Linked DNA regions of Homo sapiens: region 2 is linked to region 1. A link means that fine-mapping ties the variant in region 1 to the expression of a gene that starts in the linked region. Tissue or cell type: whole blood. Region 1 holds a variant in brackets; the other region holds the start of a gene. All regions are shown on one strand. Distances are between the middles of the regions.

Region 1 (8,107 bases):
GAAAGCATAGTGACTGCTGCTTCTGGGGAGGCCTCAGGAAACGTCCTATCATGGTGGAAGGCAAGGGGAAGCCGGCACATCTTCCATGGCTGGAACCAGAGCAAGAAGGAGAGAGGGTGGGAAGTGCTACACACTTTTTTTTTTTTGAGACAGTTTCGCTCTTGTTGCCCAGGCTGGAGTGCAATGGCGCCATCTCGACTCACCTCAACCTCCGCCTCCCAGGTTCAAGCAATTCTCCTACTTCAGCCTCCCAAGTAGGTGAGATTACAGGCACCCATCACCATGCCTGGCTAATTTTGTATTTTTAGTAGAGATGGGGTTTCTCCATGTTGGTCAGGCTAGTCTCGAATTCCCAGCTTCAGGTGATCTGCCCGCCTCGGCCTCCCAAAGTGCTGGGATTACAAGCGTAAGCCACCGCGCCCGGCCGGTGCTCCACACTTTTAAACAACCAGATGTCATGATAACTCTACCACTATACAGTACCAAAGGGGGGATGGTACTAAACCATTCATGAGAACTCTGCTCCCATGATCCAATCACCTCACACCCAGCCCTACTTCCAACACTGGGGATTACAATTCAACGAGAGATGTGGGTGGGATCCAAACCATATCATTGCTCCAACCTAAAACCTTGAAAGTCATTCTTGGTTCTCTTTTCCTCATACTTCCAATCCATCAATAAATCCTGTCAGCTCTACCTCCAAGAATCTTACTACTTCTCACCACCTCCACTGCTACCACCACTGGTCCAAGCCACCATTATCCCTGGAGTCTTGTAGTAGCCAATAATAGATAGCTACAGTTGTTTCTCAATACACAGGCAAATTGATTCTTTTAAATGGAAATCAGATCATGTCACTCCTGGGTTCCACAGTTTTTAATGCCTTTCCACCTCACTTTGAGAAAAAGCTGAAGCCCCGGCAATGTCCTACAAAGCCCCACACAACTGGGCCTCAAGACAACATCTCCTTCCACTGTCTCCTCGCTCACTCTGCTCTGGTCACCCTGGCCTTCTCGCTGTTCCAAGAATATGCCACTCCTACTTCAGGCCTTTACTTTTGTTCCCCCTCTGCTTGGAAACGGCTTCCTCCAGATGTACACAACGCTTGCTTCCTCATTTCTTTCAAGTCTGTTTATCAGTGAGTCCATCTTATATATGACATTAGCAACCACCCTTCCTTACTGCTGCAGTCTGGTACCCACTCACCTACTTTCTCACTTTCTTTTTCCCCATGGCACATATCAATATCTGACATATTATGGCTATACTTGTTTATTGCTTGTCTGTTTCTTGCAGTAGATATGAGATCCAAGAGTGCAGAAACTTTGTTCCCTGCTGCGTCTCCATCACCTAGAAAGTACTGGACACATGGTAGGCATTCACATTTTGTCAGACTATTACGTGAATGAAATGAATGGCTCAACATAATCACTGCTAAGAACAAGAGCTCTTGCAAAGCCTCTGTAACCACAAGTAAAAATATTTGTGTTTACTAAAGTCTTTCAGTACCTTAATTTGTTTGCTTTGGTAAATAGAGTCAGAATTTAACATGGAAAAACTCTGAACTCTCCTAGTTGATTTCCTTGAGGCTGACCAGCTTGGAGTGGTTATAAAACACAGACAGGTATTTAAAATTGCCTGGATGTAGCCAGATGCAGTGGCTCATGCCTGTAATCCCAGCTCTTTGGGAGGCTGAGGCAGGCAGATCACTTGAGGTAAGGAGTTCTAGACCAGCCTGGCCAACATGGTGAAACCCTGTCTTTACTAAAAATACAAAAATTAGCTGGGCGTAGTGGTGCATGCCTGTAATCCCAGCTACTCAGGAGGCTGAGGCAGGAGAATCACTGGAACCCAGGAGGCAGAGGTTGCAGTAAGCTGAGGTTGTGCACTCCAGCCTGAGCGACAGAGGGAGACTCAGTGCCTGAATTTCTGTAAGGGATACTAATCTGGTTGGAAAGGAGATGTGGGTCTCTAAGCTGAATTAAGGTGGTTATTTGTATAAGAACATGAGAAAAACATCAACTGCTCATTTCAAAGAACGAAAGAGTGATAAAGGCTGCCGATAGGATTTGGACAGGGAAGGAAGGTACCGAAGCTGTCTTCCTCAGAAGCATAAACACATGGGAGTTAGTCCTACTAAGTAACAGTGTGGACTCGAAGTAGTCCCTGAAATTTCTTTGAACCTCAGTTTCCTCACCAGTGAACTGAGGGGCTTAGATATATTATTTATAAGGTCAATTCCAACCCTATTTTCTGGTGGTGAGATCAGGTCTCAGATTTATATTCTCAGACATAACTTTCATTAAATTGGAAATTTGAGATCCAGTTTCTTTTTCTGCAAAATGAAAAGTTTGACTAAAATGAACTCTAAGGTTTTTATTATTATTTTTTAACAGGTCTAATATTCTTTGTTTTCATTGTGTTTTTGGATTTTTTTTCTCTGCCCAATTGGCTCTGGTAAAATTTAACCTCTTCATTATGATTATTGGTTGCTTCTTTTGTTCGTTTCTTTGAAGTTGTGGTCACACACACACACACACACACACAAAATGTGAAGATATGTCACATACATTTGTAGATGCAGTGTGTGCTATCTTGCTGTTGGTGACCACTAACTTTGCCTTGAGACAGGGTGTGGAGCAGAGATACATCCTTGAGGTTTGTTTTATTCTCTAAACTTGACAGTGAGAGGACAGGAAATGGTCCATTGAGAAACTGGTGACCAAAAAATGCTGAAATTCTTCTTTAACCTCAGTTCCAGTCAATTCACATTGGAAACCGCAGTGCTTTTAAATTGCGCATTCCTAATTCTCTGATTTCTCACCCCTGTGGCTTGTTTTAGGGTCTCTAGGTGTATATTCAGTCAGCTGAACCACTCGAAGGGCCTGGTCACACCTGTGTCTTACCTTTGTGCCTCCATTTCTACAAGTACAAAGACATGGAGGAAACAGAAATTTTGCTACCTCCTTTCAGTGTTAAGTTTGAGATATCCTGATAAAAACCTTCAAAAAAGGGACTGAATGTTATTATTATTTTTTAAAGTAAAGACAAGAGGTTTATGTCCTACAGTTCTGGAGTCTGGGAAGTCCAAGGTTGAGGGTCCTGCATCTCTGAATGTGAATTTTTAACAAATGTGTTGGGGCTGGAGGGTTGGGGTGAGTTGGAATGGGGACAGAGCTCTTGAAAGATGCTTATTAAATCTGCAGTCCTTTCTAACAGACTTTTACAGGTAGGAACGCTTTCTTTGAGAAAGATGCACAGAGCTTGTCCTCTTCCCTTGAAAGCCATGGGCAATGAATGATAAAGTAGTTAGTCATCACAGAGCACTGGTGACTTAACTGCTCAAATCAATAAATATTCCCATTTCCATTGACTCATTTAATGGGAAAAGAAGGTCACATGTCAAGAAAGAGGGAGGGGATGGAAGAAAGGAGAGAATGAGTGAGACAGGAATTTTGAAATGTATTAGAACGTGTTTTTTTCTAACATTTTAGTATGAAGATTCCCAAATTACAGGAAAGTTGAAGGAATTAAACAGGGTATACCCATTTACTCACAACTTGGATCCTGCAATTAATATTTTGCTATAATTGCTTTATTACCTCTATTGATCCTCTCAAGAGTAGCAGTCTGTGAGTTTTGATGAAGGCTTACTTGTGTGACCCAGTCCTAACCGGATATAAAATATAACCTTCATCTCAGAAAATTCTTTCTTGCCCCTTCCCAGGTAATCCCTGCTCCTACCTCACAGCCAGAGGCAACCACTATTCTAATTTTTAAAACTGTAGATTAGTTTTGCCTATTTTTGAATTCCATGTTAATAATACCATACAGTATGAGCTCTTTTGTATGTGAAGCTTCTTTCATTTACCATAATATTTTTGAGATACAGTCAGGTTGCTGTGTGTAGCCATTTATTTTTTAAACCACAATAATCTCTATTCATTTTTAGAGAGTCTCAGGTTAAGAGTTTCTTCTAAAAGCAACAGGAAAAATAAGCTGTTGTTTTTTTTTTTTTTTT[A/TA]AGATAGGGGAGAGAGAGTTGAAAGGAACCTGAGTGAAAGGTACTTTGGCCTCTTAATTTTCATGATAAAGAAGTTGAGGCCCCGTCATTGCTCTGGGGCACGCAGACTGAGCTGAAACTGGAACCCAGGTCTCCTGATTCACGGCTTGAAAGGGTTAGGAAGGCAGCTGAGTAGGGTGGTTGTTTGAGCTGAAGCCATGTGAGAATAGAGAGTTTCGACAGAGCTTTGCTTTAGAGGATGTGAAACTACAGTAACCTCATGTGACAAAAAATCCTCCGAGGCCTTGGTATGGAGCCAGAGGAGGAAGTTTGACATGGCCTCTGGTTACCAGCTCCACCTCTGAACCCACTGGCCCAGGATGACTTATGGTGAGCTCTCTGATTTGCAATAAAACTAGACATGGGACAGAGAAAGCTTTTCTGCACCATGCACAAGGCAGGACAATGCTAAAGGAGGGGGGGGAAAAAAAAACAAGAAAGACACCTTCAGCCACATGGCCTTCCCATAGCAGGGGACCCAGAGCTGAAAATAAAACACCCAGGGAGGAAGGGATGCTGTGGTTACAGACAGAGCCTTTGTCTCCCAAGTGCATGTTCCAATTCAGCCCAGGATGACAATGACCTGGAGGTTCCTGCCTGCCAGCTGTTGGCTGGCCTTTGTGAAAGTCCCCGAGCTCCAGGCCAATGCTTAGCGGGCAGGTATCCATATCGTGAAGCCAATTGGCACTGCTGGTACCTTTGTTGATGATGTGAGCACAGCCACTGGGAACCAAGGCTGCTGGTGCACTCTTGCTACCAGCTGGCAGGTGCAAACCCATGGGCAGGTGCCCTGGGGAGAGACGGTTCATGCTGCCATGGTAACCGATAAAAAAAAGGAGGTTTCTTCAAGGTCAGTTTGCCCTTTTTTCTGCTAGAGGATATTGTGAGGAAGAAATGAATTTGTGGCAGCCCTGACTTGTGTGTAAATGTGTCCTTCATCTGTTTTGAATTGACACTTCTAATTGGATCTAATATTAGTGTCACCCACTGGGCAAATCTGGGTATTGGTGGGTCTCCTGGGCTATGTCATTGTGGACAAAGATCAAGTCACCAGAGAAGTCCCAGAAGAGACGTTCCAGTGTAAACCAAGCAGGATTGAACAAAGAATTCCAAAAGTGATTTTGAAAAGGCTGACAGTCAGGTTGGACAGGTTCTTCGGGCTATTCCAGGATGTGAAATTAATGCGGACTGTCTGAGGCGTGTCACCCTAGATGTCCTTTAGCCAAACTGTCCTAGGTGCAAGGAAGAAGGGACCCTTGTCAGCTTGCTTGGTGCCTCACGAGTTTGTCACAATGCATTCATTGTAAAGAAGCAAGCTTTCCTTATCATCATTGTCCTTCTCTCTGTAAACCTTCTGCTCATGCCTTTACCTTGGGCAAATACATTTTCTGGCTTTGATTTAAAAGTTCAGCTTCTTGATATTAATATTTCTGCGCTTCATTCTGATAAAAGTTGTTCTGACTCAGGTCATTGGCTTGGGTGTCAGTAATTTTCCCATTTAGCCTCTCTTGTGTGTTTTTCATATTCTGAGATTTCTGTTGGCAGAAATAACAGCATTGTATTAATTAATTAATTAGTAGCATTGTGTTATTGCAGGGGCTTCATGAACCCCTGGGAGAATTTTACTCTGTTCTGCTTACTGGGATGCTACCAAAATTATTTAGTACCCTGACAATCAGAAATATCATTTTTTTGGATAAACTCTAAGCAACTTGCCTGCAAGTATAACCATGGAGGTTGGCCTCAGCTTCCCAATGTACAAAATGAAAAGATTAGATTAAATGATGTCTTCAGGTACTTGCCAGCTGGTTTTCTAAGATGTTTGATTTTAACATAAAAAGAAAACCTGTGAATATATTCAACAAATAACAAATGGAATTTACAAAGCTCTGCACTGGATCCTTGTATGCAGTAAATATTTATAATTCATCTACCAAGTCTGGGTGCTGGGGCTATGGAAGCGGATACAGCATCATTTTCTATTCTGAAGGATCTCATAGCCTAATGAGGGAGGGGTCACAAGAAAAAAATTCTTCTCAAAATTGGCAGGAGTTTGAAGACAAAATTCTGCTTGGGAAAAGAACTTACCTTTTGGTTTGGAAGAGCTTCTAAACTGACATGTTTAATGTAGAAAGATAAGTCTTTTTCCCTGAGCCCCCTCAACTGGCAGGGCCATAACTAAGGTGATATTGAGTGAGGCACTTGCCTGGGATACAAAAAAAAAAAAAGGGGTCGAGGGGGATGTCAAAAAACTTCGTGGTTAAGATAAACTGCACTATAAAGTAGTCTTTTAAAAATCAAAATTAATGAAAACAAAATCCCTGATGAACAAAGGATGAAAATTTAAAATAAAGAGAGGATCTGATCCTGCATGTGTATATACCCTTTCCTCACTTTCCTCCCCCTAATCTTGGCCCTGGTTCTATTAAAATTTTATACAACTTGTAATTTGATTTTTAAAAGCATAGCATTAAAATATTAGAATATTTTAATATTAATATAATTGAATATTTTATATTAAAATATAAAATATCACAATAATATTAATTAGCATAATTAATTTTAATATTACTATTTATTAATATTAATTTTATTACAAATCTGGAGGCATCACATTACTGAACTTCAAACTGTACTATAAAGCCATTGTCACCAAGGGATGGGGGGGTGGCGAGGTATAACAGACTACACATAGGGTACAGTGTACACTGCTTGGGTGATGGGTGCACCAAAATCTCAGAAATCACCACTAAAGAACTTATTTGTGTAACCAAACACCCCTTTTCCCCCAAAAAACTATTGAAATGAAAAAGTTTTTAAAAAAGAACATTAAAAAAACTTGCCAATTTGATTTTAAAGACAATTGCATTAAAATAGTAAACTATTTTAATATTAATATTAATGTAATATTTTATATTGAAATATAAAATTTTATGCTAAAATATAAATATTAAAATAATAAAGTTTAGACAAAAAAAGAGTAGAACAGAATTTAGGGTTTTAGAAGGCTGTCAATAGAGGGAAAAAAGAAGTCTGTGGAAGGAGCCTGGGTTTCTAGAAGATGGTGGTACATAGCTGAGAAAGTCTTCATAGTGGAGAATGGTTTGTGAATATTTATGAAAGAGGTATCTAATAAGGGTTTTGAAGTTGTTCCTCACTCTGTGTTGCCTTTTATCCCCCTTTACCCACTATCCTTCAGTTAGAAATCTGATACATACAATAACCCTTGAATTTATGCTGAGTTGAGAAATAGGACGGAAGAAGGGTGTTGTCCAGCATGTCCAGGAAGTGGGCTAATGAGAGAGTAGGAAAGATGTAGAAACCAGGAAGGATGTAGCAAGGACCGCCTCAGGAGAAGGGAGAGGACTGCGTGGGTGGGTGGCTCTGGATATTCTGAAGTACAGAGGGTGCAGCCTTGAGCTCTAGTGTTTTGTAAAATTAAAGGGAATCTCTTAGGCAGCAGACACTTGGCATGCCTGCGAATCAATCACGACAGTACGTTGTTGTGGCCAGTCTTTGGTTTGTCCCTCCAAGGGAAAGGTCCACTTTCTTCCCTTGGAGGCTGCCCTGTATGGACCACAGGAAAGGGCTCCCTTGACCCTGGATTCCAGCTGGAGTTCCCTCCAGCACCAGCAGATAATTGGAAGGAGGGAGGAAGAGCCAAACTCAGGGCTTTTCCAGTGGCTCCTTTCCTGAGGGTTTGCTCCAGACTGGCTACATTCCTCTACTCAAGGTTGCAGTTCCTGTGAAGCATCCCTCTTCTTCTCCCTCCAAGCTCTGAGAACTACTTCTTCCTCTTACCTTTCCAGCCTAGGGATAGTAATAGAGCTCCTCTTAATTTGCCCAGCGGTATGTACTAACTTTTGTAGTCTCCTTATACTCTGCTTCTTTGTAAAGAGTCTCTGTTTTAAACACTCTTCAGTATGAGGTTTCTGAGACCTGACTCATACAGATGTGAGAAGGACTAAAAAAGGTTTGTACGAAGCATTATAGGCTGGAGGTGGAGAACGCGATCAGCTGCACAGTGGGAAGGGAACATGGGGT
Region 2 (8,107 bases), 150 kb before region 1:
TACTTGTATTACATATACAAGGCCAGGTTACAGAAACATACCTATTATATACATTAACAGGCAAACTTAGCACAGGGTAGAGACCTAGCTCATGGTCTATTAGAATGCCTGCAAAACAAATTTCTCCTTAAAAATAATCAATTAATTTGATTATTAATTTGAAAAAAGAAAATGGAAGAAGCAGAGTAGTGGAAAGAAATGGACTGTGGAGTCAGTCTGACTTGGGATTGAATCCTAGCTGTCTTCTAGTTGTGTAATCATGAGGTTTTACCATCTCAGATGAGTTTGCACCTACAGAAAACAGAAATTACACTATCTTAGGGGGCTGCAGTGATGATCAAATGAGATTATATATAAACATATATATAATACATATAATAGATATCATACACACACACAGAAGGCAAAAGAGTTGATTATGTAAAAGGTATCTAGGCATATCTATATGCTCAATGAGTATGTTTTAAGCCACAGATAAAATCCTAATATATTTTTGCAAACTGAAAAGAGTATCTGACTAATCTCATGCTTTGCAATGAACCATTTACTAATTCCGGCCCTGATTATTTCTTTCATGATTAAACATGTTCTTAAATAATTTCTTAAAGACAACTTTGGGTTACTCCTAATCTTACACATTTCCTCACATTAATAGTCTACCATTTACATGTTTAAGTTGCTTTAGCTTTTAACTTAGGATATAGAAAGAGGCAAGGACTAAGGAAAACAACCAAGTCTATACTTGATATATTTGATAGAAGCAAAGAATTCCAAGATTAGAGGTGTAATATACACGCAGTTCCTAAGCAGCCTCTAGAGACTACTACTTTTCCATGACACATTTTCCCATCGCCTTCTGTGTAACAGACAGCCCTCAACCCAAGAAGATGACTGGAGTACAAAATGCAAAAGAGGTGCTTTCTACCTGAGAGCATTTCTGAATGCCCCATATTTTTCCTCATGGTAATCCATTCCCCATTAACTACCTTGCCACCCCCTCATTTCTTCCTTTGGGATGCACACAGCCAGTGTCAAGGACTGATTAGCCGACTCAGCCTAGGCAAGCTGTAGCTGGTTTTTTTTTTGCTCTTGTTGAAAGCAAAAAAACACTCCTTTCTTCCCACATTTTGAAATCTGCAAGTTGACAAGTCAGTGGCCATTTCTAAAATATGCAACATATTATGCTCGAGGTGCTATGGAAGTTGTAAATGAATATCAATGAACAGGGCTACTTCCTGTTTTTCGTATCTAACAAAATGGAGTTTTAGTGCATTGGAAATCGTATATTAAGGAATGTTGGTTAACCAGTCACTCTTGCCAAAATCAGATATGAAAAGAAAATAAAAGTTGGCAACAATTCTAGCTCTTATATTTCTCTTCCAGAATTATATTAAGGTTCATCTTTGAAGAATGCATTAATTTTCTTATCTGATTTAAAATGAAACTGACACCATTCTTAACTAAAAACTTACAAATTCACGGAAGACTAACTTATGTGACTACCTTTATTTTTATAAAGTCACCCACTTAATATTTTAAGAGTAATTTTTAGGTAATAATGCTCTTATACCTCCTCTTTAGTAAAAGGTCACTAAATCATATTTTTAGCCTAATAGCTTTAAAAAGGAAGTGAAATCTGAGGGCTATATGAGGATATAAAAGCAGCCTGTGAAATACCTTTAGTTTTAAACAAAAACTAACATTAACAAGTACAGCATATCTTGTTCTTTCACGGGGCCAGCAAATTGATAGTTTGGTTTTTTAAGTTACAAAAATAGGATGGGGTAATTATATCTACCAAACTCACAATAGGCTGTTCAATGGAGAGTAACACTGTAATTTTTCTTCAAAGACAGTAAATAGGAAGAAAAAGCCCCTAAATTCTGTAATATAAGGAAAAATTCCAAACCCTTGGGCGCCACTTACAGGCACTTTCACTGATTTCAGCTATCACCCTGAAAAAGAGGGACAAACTTAAAATCTTCTATTTAAATACGAGTATTATTTATTTATATAAATTCTAATTCAAAGTATATTTTCTACATTCAAAGATCAGAAGGAAATTCTAAAATTAAAAAAAAGATCACAGAACTCTCAAATATTTCAAAATCTTAGATTTTCCTCTTGGAAGTATGAATGTAACTTAACTGTCAAAAAAAAGTAAAACATAAAGTTCAATTGATATTTTATTGAGTTGGCTATAATTAAGGGTTTTTTTTCCTAAAACTTTAAATGGTAAGTAATAGTGTAGCATAACCAACATGCAATACAAAATATACACACTCAAATAAGATACAAGCCCTTTCCCCACAAAGTTTTATACGAACAGATTCAAATGAATTTCAACCCAATTGTTAAGAAAAAAAAATTCACTATATTTCATAAGGTTAGGGAATCAACATTTTACTATAAATGAAATCTTTACGTATGACATTTGGGATAAACCAACAGCATTCTGACTCGTAAAAATAATTTCTTTAAAAAAGATTATCCTTACAAGCCCATTATTTTCTTATACTGTGCAATTATAATCTACACCTTAAGCAAAGGGGAAAAAACCTCGGTTACAAAACGCAAATACTAAGCATGGATTACTTAGTCCCTAAATTCTATCTGCCTCCACCTTAGTCCTCTTATTTTGTGTCAAGAGACAACATTAAACAATTTCAGTACATTATTTTTACAGTGGATGCTCTTCTACTATATTCACAGCTCATTAAGAGTACTAGAATGCTGACGTTTGCTAAATTATTTATTGTATCCAAAAAGTTAGGTCTCAATAGATACAATTTCTTAAATTTGGGGTTAAAAATTTTTATCTGGAATTCATTTAAAGTAGAAGTTGCCTTCAAAGAATTATTCCAGTTAAGTTTTAATACAATCTGCACAGAAATGGGAAAACTATAGAGGTACATAACTCTTGTAAGAATAAATTACATGTACAAGTGCACACAAAACTGTATCAGTCACAAATCTCCTTTGGTCTCAGTAGTGCCATGGTACAGTGCGAAGCATATTTTTTAGTTCTTGGGGAGAGGAAGGGGACTTCCAAATACTAAATGGATCGTGATTTTAAGCAAATAATCAAATGCACAAAAAATGCCAGATCACTTTAGATAATGAATCCAAACCAAGGACTCCTACTGTCAAATTCGTCTCACAAAATGACACGCTTTCTTCTCATAATAAAGGTCAGGGAATTCTACAGGGCCACGAGGGACTATCACAAAAACATTTCCAGCAACTCAAAATACCCATCAAGACTTTGTACTTTGCATACGTTAATCAGGTTTTTAAAAAACAAACAAACAAGGATGTAGCTGTCACACTTAAAAGAATTTCCTTTAACATAAAAATTTCCAGTAGCCAAAAATGGGCGAGGCCAATAAACCGCTGGTCTAAATTACCTTACACATACTGTACTTCATATGCACCAGAAGACGCATCTGAGCCGAAGCCCACCGCACTGCGGCCCCTGGAATTCAGCGGGCGGCCCGCGCCAGGGCACCGAGCAGGAAGCACTGCACCCGCGCCGCAGTCCCCGGGCCAAGCCGGAGGGGCTGCGGGGAGCAGTCACCACTGCTTTGAAACTGAATGGCTGACACATCCGGTCCTGGCTCTTACACCACTCCGCCAAATGCAAACTTCAAAGGCCAAATTCAAACTCCAAACAGAAGTCACTCAAGTGACTTAGCAGTGCAGTTCGCATTCCCAGGAACACTCAAAGCCCCTTGGGGGCTGCAATTAGACAAACCGCACTTCCTAAAAGACTGCAAGCCTCCGCGAGTGTGCAGCCTCCCGCCGCACGGCTTTGACAGGCGTTACCGAGCCGTCCTCCTGGAGCCCTGCGGCCGGCGCTGGGGGCGCGCCGCCTGCGTCCGGGCCCAGCCCGCGGTATCTGCCTAGGGACTCGAGTCCCGGGCGGGCCGAGGGGCTCTGCCTGTCACGGCCGCTGGGACCTGCTACTTTCTCTTCGGTCCTCTCAGTCTCCCACCCGACCTCGGGCTTCTCACCCACCCCGCCCCTCTTCCGACCACCGCCCGCCTCAGGCTCGGGCCTCGCCCCCCAGTGCCTTTGCCCCGGGGACACCCGTCCGGGGGCGCCGCCGCAGGGCCGTGCCCCGCCCCCGGGCTCCTCGGAGAGCCCCGATTCCAGGAGTCCCACAAAGCCAGCCGTGGCCCCCTACACCTTTTCGCAACGGTTCCCCGCAGAGAGGCTCGCACGCCTGTCACATGTCTGCAAACAATAACAAACTCTTCCGCACGTCCCCGTCCGGTCCCCCAGGCTGGGTCCGGGGCGCCGCCCGACTCCGAAGGGGTCGGGGGGTGCTCAGGGGCGTAGGTCCCGGCGAGCGGCGCGTAGCCTCGCTGCGCTGAACCCCGGGACGCCGTGCATGGTGCCCGGGGTTCATTCATTGCCCTCTGCCCGCTCTCCAAGTCCCCGCCGCGACCCCGGCCGTGCTGCTCACCCGGCGGGGGCCGCTGCAGGAGACGGCTCGGCGGCGGGCGCCCGCTTCTCCCCGGGCTCGGCCGCTGCGGGACTCGAGGCGCCGCTGTCCGGCGCCGCCACCGACTCGGTAAGGTGGGCGCCGCCGCGGCTCGCGGCTCCGTGGGGCGGCGGCACCGCCACAGGCTGGAAGCCGGTCCCACTCCCCGCTGCGTCCGCGGGCTCCGGCGACGGGGAAGTCGAGGAGGCCGGCGGTGAGGCGGCAAGGAAGAGCGGCTGCTCAGGCAGCTGGTCCAGCTCCACACTCCGCACTTTGCGCAGCTGCCGCCGCCGCCAGTCCGCCCGCTCGCGGCCCCCGCTGCCCGCCTCCCGCAGCAGTCCCGCGGCAGCCGCGGGCGCGCTGCTCGCCTTGAGGGCTCCTCCGCCGCCGCCTGCCTCAGGGCTCGTAGCCCTGGCGCCCGGGAATCCCGACGACGAGGCGCGATTCCCCGCCGCCGCCGCCATTTTCTCTCGCGGGCTACATTCGCTCGGCCCCTGCGAGGGAGGGAGGGGGCGGGGAGAGCGCAGGGGGCGGGCACTGCGCCGCCAGCGTAAGGCCTCCTGCGCCAACTGCGTGAGCGCGGCCCGCCGGGCGCCTGGCCTGGACTGACCGACGGGCGGGCGCACTGGGTCCGGCCTGCGGCAGAGGTGTGGGTGGAGGGCGGCCCGGCGGCCGCAGGTGGGAGGGAGTGGGCTGTGCTCTCCGCCGGGCGAGAGGGCGGGCGGGCGAGGTGGACTGGGAGGCGGAGGGGGCGGGGGCGGAGGCGGAGGCGTGGGCTCCCGGGACTCTGCGCGCTGCACGCGCCGCGCCGCCAGGTAGTCCCGGCCGCACCGGCGACAGGAGGAGCCTTGGCGGCAGCGCTGCGCCGCTTCCTCTCGGCAATCTCGGCCCGGCACCGCGGAGCTCGCGGGAGGGGAGTTGCACCTTCCGAAAGAAAGAATTAGTTCCAACTTGGGTTTCTGGTGCTTGAAGGGGACGCAGGCGAGAGGGTTTACAGTCTGTCATTCCCACTGCCCTTTGCAGTGGGCGTCGGGGGACCCGGGCGTGGACCAGCCTCCCACCGACGCGCAGGTGGCGCCCGGGACCGTCGCCTGCTGCAAAGCGAAAGCAAGTCAACGTTCAGCAGACAGGCTGCCGCGGACCAGAAAAATAAAGTTTTGTTTGTGTTTTCTTTTGAAAAGAAAACATTCCTTCTCTATTGTCCCACCCCTGTCCCTGTGCTACAGATAACAAAACTTCAAAGTTTTCTGTAATACCTTACATCCTGAAGCTGCTGATTTGGGACAACTACCCCCTACCCTCACCAAGTCCCCACAGCCTCTGAGAAACCGTTGGGGCGAGGAAGGGAGGCGGGTGTCCCCGTCGATCTTTAGTTTTTCCTTGGCTGTCTTTGGGAAAGGCAGTCCCGTACAGAACCACATATAGCGCGTTTGGGGAGGGGACCAGCGCTGTGCCAGGAAGTGCTCGGTAATGTCACCCTCGGCCAGGTCCCGGCCCTCCCCGAATCCGATGCTTCTCGCCGCACGTCCTTCTTCCCTGCAGGGTCGGGCCACCGGCCGGGTTCCCTCTGTCCCCACTCCTGCAGGGCCTGGCTGCCCATCGCTGCGTTGTGAGTCCTCCTAGTCCCTGGACTCTACGTGAGAAGGTGCTTTGGGATGGAAAAAGCAACATTTACACGTTAATGATTTTTGACCTTTTGTCAACTGAGGAGAACTTCTGTGTTGCGTTTATTTCTTCCTTCCTTTCCTTTCCTCCAGCTGGTTTGTTTAGGATGGGGAATCTCCCAAAACCCAGGAGGAACGTCTATAGATTTACTTTGTGAAACATGATTAAGGAGGGGGGAGGTTGGGGTGGGGGGGTGCGGATTCTCACGGAGATAGTCTTGTCAGTCTTCACATATTTAGACAAAAGCCTGAACTATTTACAGAATAATTCCATTGACTTCTGGAGACTAGGTAAAATGAAAGCCCCTTTCCCAGATACAATGTTAACTGCGTAACCAGGTTAGATCAGAGGGGTTTTAAAAAGTCCAGATTTCATATTAGCTCAATGATTTGAAAACTGCTGTAACATCTCCCATAAGATAGTTTTAGATCGTTACACCCAACGGTACAAATTTTGAAAGTTCAGATAAATCTGTTAAAAATTAAGTCTACATTTAGGCTATAATTATATGCTATTTTAATGGCAGTCAAATGTATCATTCAAACCAAACAGTGGTTATTTCTCAGGTCTTCCTGGGTTGCCACACCCACCAAATCCTAAACTGAAACGGATAAACTTTCCTTGTTCCTATTTTGATCTAAAGACTTTTACATTTGCACGCACATATTCAGGTACCTGTAAGTGAGAAAAGTAAGTGGAAGACTTTAGCCAGAGTAGCAGAGTAAAAAGGAGATTCCAGCAAAACTGATTTTTGACTGTTTGTACAGTGGTTGAAACTGGGGATCAAAGGGAGAGGGCTACCCAGCGCAGCACTATGAACTAGCTACAATTCTCTCACTTCCTCCATCCACCACGTATTACCATGGAGAAACCTAAGTGTTGGTATTTTCCCACAGTTTTTGTTGCTTTGAGTCATTTTTTTCTTTGTTTACGTAAATATTCAGGTTGTCATTATGCATCTGCATATGGACACACTGATTTCTTAAAGAGAGAATCAAAGGACATGCTTAACTGAAAAGGGTGTTCTCCCTCTGCCATATGTTAATAGAAGTTTCTGAGTCTAATGCGTGATTAAGACTCTAGCTGGTTTTGGTGCTCTTCAGTCCTGCTATGTTACTGCAGAGAGGTGGATGTCAAATATCAAGTACTGTAGGCTCTGAATTCTCTTAATATGATTTATTTAATAACATTCAGGAGACTTGTATTTCTTCCAAGGTTGTTTCTAGACTGAAAGCTCCAATTCCTGTTTCCAAGCTCTTCATTTCCATCCTCACTGGGACGTAAACCTTGCAATGATTTCACGCATGCAATTTCATGGCAATTTCATGACCATTTCAATAACCTTAATACCAGTGCATTACAGATCACTGCCTCCACATAGTGCTTCTGGAAACTGCCTACATCACACTTCAGTTCCTGCAGCATATTCACGTTGAGGATCCACTTTGACACTGGGCATTTCCTCACTGTACATAAATATCACAAATATTAGAATGAGCAGACATAATATACATTGGGAGAAATATTTCAGCCTGTACATCATTCATCATATATTTAGTAAGCACCTACTGTGCATATGCAGGAATTTTTCTTCTCTGAGGATATTGTTTGTTGTTTTTCATTTCTACAAAAATGAATAAACAAAATATTCCAATCTACAGATATTTTTATTAGTGGGTATTTATCAGGCTGACTGGTAGAATTCCAGATCCATCAGTATGTGAATGTATTCACATATTCATGGCTGTTTGTGAGATCTATACCTCAGATAAACATAAAAGAATAATATAACCTTGAGAATAGGGTAAAAGCTGGTGTTCTTTCAAGCTTACAAATATTTATTATGGAATACTTGCAGGAGTGCTGGGGCTAGAATTTGGTTTCTGCATGTTCTTTCCAGACAACATACTTCCCAGGTGTTTTCAGATGTTCTAAGTCAGAAAATCCTGTCATCAG

Evidence for each region. PIP is the estimated chance that this variant, and not a neighbour inherited with it, causes the effect.
Region 2: MAP3K1 starts here. The variant in region 1 is fine-mapped to the expression of MAP3K1 in whole blood (INTERVAL, PIP above 0.99).

What each region holds. Positions count from the first base shown.
Region 1 is chr5:56,666,369-56,674,475 of GRCh38, reverse strand. No RefSeq gene overlaps it. Among named protein-coding and RNA genes, the nearest start is that of C5orf67, 64 kb to the right of the region's middle. RefSeq lists an enhancer at 3,981-4,030 and a silencer at 3,980-4,274. The variant A/TA (reference allele first, on the strand shown) is at 4,025.
Region 2 is chr5:56,812,417-56,820,523 of GRCh38, reverse strand. It overlaps MAP3K1 (mitogen-activated protein kinase kinase kinase 1), which reads right to left and starts at 4,975. Exons shown (of 20, transcript NM_005921.2): 1 at 4,469-4,975. The coding sequence starts at 4,950. RefSeq lists silencers at 1-82, 3,878-4,117, 4,298-4,417, 4,488-5,257 and enhancers at 3,343-4,166, 5,618-5,747.